2 separate regions of the Homo sapiens genome follow, and region 1 is linked to region 2. The links come from fine-mapping of genetic effects on gene expression. A gene starts in region 2. The other region holds a variant in brackets. All regions are shown on one strand. Distances are from middle to middle.

Region 1 (2,908 bases), 170 kb after region 2:
GTCGGGTGTGGTGGCGGGCACCTGTAGTCCCAGCTACTTGGGAGGCTGAGGCAGGAGAATGGCATGAACCTGAGAGGCAGAGCTTGCAGTGAGCCGAGATCGTGCCACTGCACTCCAGCATGGGCAACAGAGCGAGCCTCCGTCTAGAAAAAAAAAAAAAAAGCAAATCTTTCATTTTATAAAGATTTTTTTTTTTTTGAGACAGAGTCTTGCTCTGTCACCCAGGCACAGTGGCGCAATCTTAGCTCACTGCAACCCCTGACTCCTGGTTTCAAGCAATTCTCCCTGCCTCAGTCTCCTGAGTAGCTGGGATTACAGGTGCACACCACCACGCCTGGCTAATTTTTGTATTTTTGGTAGAGACGGGGTTTTGCCATGTTGGCCAGCCTGGTCTTGAACTCCTGAGTTCAGGTGATCTGCCTGCCTTGGCCTCCCAAAGTGCTGGGATTACAGGCGTGAGCCACCATGCCCGGCCAAAAAGATTTAATAAAATGATACTTCTTTCCAGCTGGTTAAATTTAAAACACTGGAAAAAAAAGTTTCATGCAAGACTGTTCTCCAAGTCTGGGCCAGAGCAGTTTCATTTGAGAGTGAGCTGATTGCGTTGGTATTTAACTCACAGCCACAAGCATTTGTCCACACAGGGGAGAGAAGCAGGCCCTTGTAGCCCTCCTGATTTGCCTGACAGTGCCATGAAGACTGCTGCTGTATTATTGCTGCTGGCCCTTCCCTTAGTGCTGACAGATTTCAGGGAAGAGCTGTGCCAAAACTGTTAGTATTTTCCTCTTCAGTTCTCAAATTAAGACATTTCTTGATCTCCTCATGACTCCACCTTCTCTGTTTTTTTGAGGGAATTTGGAGGCCTACATTCTATAACTGGCAAAAAATGATGGAGACAGATAGCAAATGCATCCAGCTGCAGAAGGAGGCAATACATTAAGTCAAATCAGTATTTATTTACTGAGCATTGGTACTACCTAAACCCTGGGTCGGGAATAAAAAAGTAAAATGTGACCCTTGCCCTCCAGGAGCATATAATGAGTTTGTATTAGACAAGACGTTTTGGTATCAGGGAACAGAAGGCCACTTGGGCTGGCTTATGCAAAGCCAGGAATTTATTATACACAAGGGAAGGAAAGCTTCTGCGTCTCAATGAGGGATAAAACCCAAGAACTGGATGCTAACAGGAACCAGTGTTGCTCTCCTTGTCTCTTGGAGGCCCCAAGTCTCTCACAGCTGCTTTTATTCTGAGCCTCAACTTCGTGCTCACTTCCTGGAGATCAGTTTTATCTGTGGAGATGAGCAGAGGCTGCTTGTTGTACCTATGATGTCACTGTTCCCCTTTTTCTCTGAAAAGAGAGTTTTAGCTGAACACTTGGCCACTCAGCTGACAGATGCACTTCCAAGCTTCCCTTGCTGTTAATTGTAGGCATTTACTAGGCTTTAGCCAATG[T/C]GATATGGGCAGAAATGATATGTACAACTTCCAGGTTACACTCTTAAATAGAAAGGAATGGGCGCCTCCTTTCCTCTTTTTCCCTCCTTGCTGCCTGGGTGTGAATAAGATGGCAGGAGTTGAAGTAATTGTCTTTAACCTAGCAATAGAATTACAGGTGGAGAATGGCAGAGCAACAAGGTGAAAGGAGCCTGGGTCCCCAACTCCATGGAGCTAATGTGATTATTAGCCCTGACCCAACTGCTTAGCCTCAGACTCTTATATAAGAGGGAAACATAGATCTCATTTGAGCTAGTATTATATTGGGATTTTATTGAGGAAGCCAGAACCTGCAACCTAACTTTTAAACCTGCTTTCTCTGTTTTTCTACGTATAAGATTGCTCTAAATTTATAAGACCTCAGTTTAAGTGACCAAACAAGAAATTCAACTTCAAATACCCAGGTAAGAGGATCGATTGGGGCATCTTCAGACTTCTAATCAGCTAAACTTAGAGGGGAGGGTAAAAGAATACAAGCCTAGCTACGGGGGCTACTGTGGGTGGGGGTAAAGTTGGGGGGTCATTTTCAGCGGGGGGTCATTTTCAGCGGAGGGTCATCTACTTTATTGACCATGCTTCTATATTGAGACCCACCATTCTTAGAGGTATTTGTGTAATTATTTTAGAAGGAAATTATGTATAATGTGTAAAAGCCAAGCCTATGCATTAAATGGAATAGTGAGTGAAAAGGAAATTTCAGAAATTGGAAGAGAAACTGACATCTCTCTGTCAATTAATAAAGTCTCCTGTGAGTGTGAAGATAGACTGGCTGGCTAGGTGGTGACCTTGTTTTCCCACACAGATCTTCCAAAGCTGCTTGGTCTGTCAGAGAAGATGACAGTCACAAATAAAGAAGAAAGGCTCTTTAGTATTCGGAGCTGTGTTTTCCTGCTAGATCCGCAAAACAGACATAATTAGTGTGTTTATATGAGATCTGTTTAGTAGCTAGGAGAGAGTTTGAGAAAAAAGGAAGGTGTCTTCGTCACCTTCCTGTTTTAACAAAATAACATAGACTGGGTGCTTATAAGCAACAGAAATTTATTTCTCACAGTTCTAGAGGCTGAAAGTTCAAGCTTAGGATGGTTGGGTTCTGGTGAGGACCCTCTTTCTGGCTCGCAGACTGATGACTTATTTTTGTATCCTCACATGGAGTAGAGAGAGCAAGCTAGCTCTCTGATCTCTTCTTATAAGGGCACTAATCCCATTCATTAATGAGGGCTCCATACTCATGACCTAATAAGGTCCCACCTCCAAATACCACCATACTGGGGATTAGATTTCAACATATGAATTTCTGGAGGACACAAAAATTTAGTCTGTCACATTCTGCTCATGGTCCTGAAAACTTATGTCCTTCTCAAATGCAAAATACACTTGGTCATTCCATTCCAACAGCTCCCCAGCCTCACCACCAAT
Region 2 (2,908 bases):
AACTCCAGAGGGAGGTAATGGGACAAAAGGAGTTGCAGGCGTAGAAAAAAAAAGAAGCACCCTCAAAATATTCTCTGGGTTATCAGATGGCACAGGAGGGGCGTGGCAAATAAACTAAAATCCATGGTTCTTCACCCATTCTTTCATATTTTCTAACACGGCGGGAATACACTTTTCTAATTTCGTTTCGCCCAATTTAAGGAAAAGATAAGCAAGGATAAAAATTCCTCATATATAGCACAATTAAAAGGGAGCTGGGATTCTCTAACTTATTACCTTAATCGGCTACACAAAGATGAAGCTACATTTCAATCGACACCATGCGCTGGCACGGGAGTAACTCACTTAAAACACCACAATCCAAGGTCAATTTTTCTCAACTCCATTTATGACTGCGTAAAGATTTTATTAAATCTTTTTTCCTATTTCACACATCAATTCCTAGGGTCCACACAAACTCTTCCATCTTCTCCAAACTGGTATTTGGATTAAACATTATCCAAGATCAGTCTTTAAAGTAAATTTCATAATTTCATATAAAAGTGTGCACCACATTAACACTCAAATGTGTGTACAATTAAAAATATACAGACCAGCAACAGCGACTCTTAAATGAATTTAGACTCAAAGTGTTTTCACAGAGGTTTTTCTGCCGTCTTGGAGGGGTAGGAAACTGCTGGCATTACGAATCCCATTTCATGGCTGGGTAAACCGAGGCACTTAGGGGTTACAGAGGTAAAGATGGAAATAGAAACCAATTTCTCCCTCCGACTCTACGCCTGGTCCCTTCCCACTAGACTTTTCAGCACTCAGTGGCTAAAAATGGGACCCACTTGAGAACTGCAAGGGTAAATAAGAGCTACTTGTTTCAGAAGGTGGCGGCGGGGGAGGGGGACTTACCCACTTGATGCGCCCGATTGTGTGTGGGCTCTAACAAGAAAGCTCTCCCTGGATGCCCAAAGGTTTGCACCCACCCGCTTTAAGCTCAGACCCGAGAGGCACCGCCAGGCAGACAGGGCAGCCGGAATCGTGCAGCCCGAGAAACGCGAGAGGAATGCGGGGCGCCCGGGCGGCGCGGGGGCCGCGGGCCCCGGGACACCATTTGCTCCCGGAGCGACGCCGTGGCCCGCCGGGCGGGGACGATGCTGAGCCTTCCGCACACACCTGCCGGAGCCCGCCCGGGAGCCCCGGGCCGCCTCCCGCGCGCCGGACGCCCACCCAGCCTCCAGGCGCAGGAGCTCTCGGCCGCGCTAGGCCAGGGGCGGGAAGCCGCGGCACCCCTCTCCGCGGGCTGCGCTTGGCGGCTGGCGCGGGGGAGCCGCGGGGCGAGGCAAGCCCGCCTTCCTCCCCAACCCCCCCTCCAAACGGCGTCACCTGTGCCGGGTCCCGGGGCGAGTCGCGCGCGGGCGGCGGCTGCGCCGAGCCGGGAGAGGGCGGCGGGTGTCTACAGGAGTCTGCTCATCCGGGCCGGCCCGAGGGCTGGCGCTGGCCAGTGCCGCCCGGTGAGATGCTCACGGGAGCCAGGGAAGCCGCGGGTTCCGGGCCGCTTGGAGGTGCAGTCGCGGAGGCTCCAGCTACCGCGGCGGCCGTCGCGCCCGCCCGGACTGCGGGCTCGGGTTACCGCAGAGCTGCTCCTTAAAGGGGCCGCGGCCGCTCGGGCTCCGGCTCCCGCTCCGGGCGGCTCCGACCCTGGCCAAAGTGGGCGGGGCCCCGAGGCGGGCCGCCGAGCAGACCTTCTTGCCCTGGAACTTGGGTCCCGGAAAGAGCCCAAAAACCCTAACACCCGAAGTCGCAGCGGAGAGATCCTGGAAGCTCACACCTTGCCAAGGGCAGAGGGTGCAATTCCCGGGTTTTCCAAAGCAAGTCACAAAACTTGCCAGCGGGGGAACTGTGTGAGCCCGCCCCCGCAGCGGTCAGTACCTGGGCTAGCCACGTAACAAAAAATCTTCTTAAATTATGAATTTACATTCTGCCTTAAATGCTCAAATACTGGGGACTTCATGGTTAGATCATCAGAAAAGAGATGAAAAGGCAACTGCTGGTTTTTCTTGCCACGTCTGACACGGCCACACTCGAGTCCCGCCAGTTCTTCTTTGGGGCTGCAGGTGCATACCAAACTGGTAGGGGGCGCGTGTAGAAGAAGCGTGTTCTCTCCAGCACCACCTCCAGAATTCCTGAAAAACACCCTCATGGGTGCACCAGCACTACACCTACACCCGGAACCCCTCTGTTGTCGGGGTGTGGAAGTTGGATTTGAATATTTGGTGCTGGCTGAGAATTCCAAGTTGCCTAGTAGATAAAGTTTGACATTAAATAGATGTTCTGACCTGTTATATACAGCCCCAAAAGCCTCCAAGTGATCTGCATCAACCAGAGATAATTGTCTGAAACAAAACAAAATAACAAAGAGGTATACTCATGCATTATAATTCGCAGAGAGCAATCACAAGGCCTTTTCTTGAAAAGAGGTAAGTTCTAAATAAATAATTTGTAAACACTATCATTGATAACAGGATATTTATTTCTAAGAAATGTCAATAGAGCTAACATATTTGATCTACTATATACATGCGCAGAAAGACACACATATCTGCCGCAGATTTAGACCAGAAAATATATACACAAAAGCTCATATAAGCTGTCCATGTTTATTTTCAAGAGAGGGCAATAGAATTTAAATCAGAACCTGGAATTCTGTCAGTTTATTAGAGTTGTGTGCCTTTAGCTAACTGAACCTCACTGAGGCTCAATTTCTTCATCTTTAAAATGGTAATAATAATTCATAGTGACTCTGAAGACCTGGACTGATGTGGAAAAGACAAAATCTATACCACAGAACAGGGAGGGACAGAAACCTGCCCTGCAGTCAAGCAGAGAGAAAGATCTTTCAGGCCCCCAAATGCGTGTT

The links. PIP is the estimated chance that this variant, and not a neighbour inherited with it, causes the effect. A credible set is the group of variants that fine-mapping cannot tell apart.
Region 1: its variant is the best candidate, but not a certain one, in a credible set for the expression of TLCD4 in left ventricle (GTEx, PIP 0.77).

What each region holds. Positions count from the first base shown.
Region 1 is chr1:94,945,404-94,948,311 of GRCh38, reverse strand. All of the region lies in intron 2 of CNN3-DT (CNN3 divergent transcript), which reads right to left. Among named protein-coding and RNA genes, the nearest start is that of CNN3, 20 kb to the right of the region's middle. The variant T/C (reference allele first, on the strand shown) is at 1,454.
Region 2 is chr1:95,116,084-95,118,991 of GRCh38, reverse strand. It overlaps TLCD4 (TLC domain containing 4), which reads right to left and starts at 1,637. Exons shown (of 7, transcript NM_152487.3): 1 at 1,375-1,637. It overlaps TLCD4-RWDD3 (TLCD4-RWDD3 readthrough), which reads right to left and starts at 1,069. Exons shown (of 8, transcript NM_001199691.1): 1 at 901-1,069. RefSeq lists silencers at 1,147-1,196, 1,277-1,556, 1,484-1,630 and a cis regulatory region at 2,885-2,908.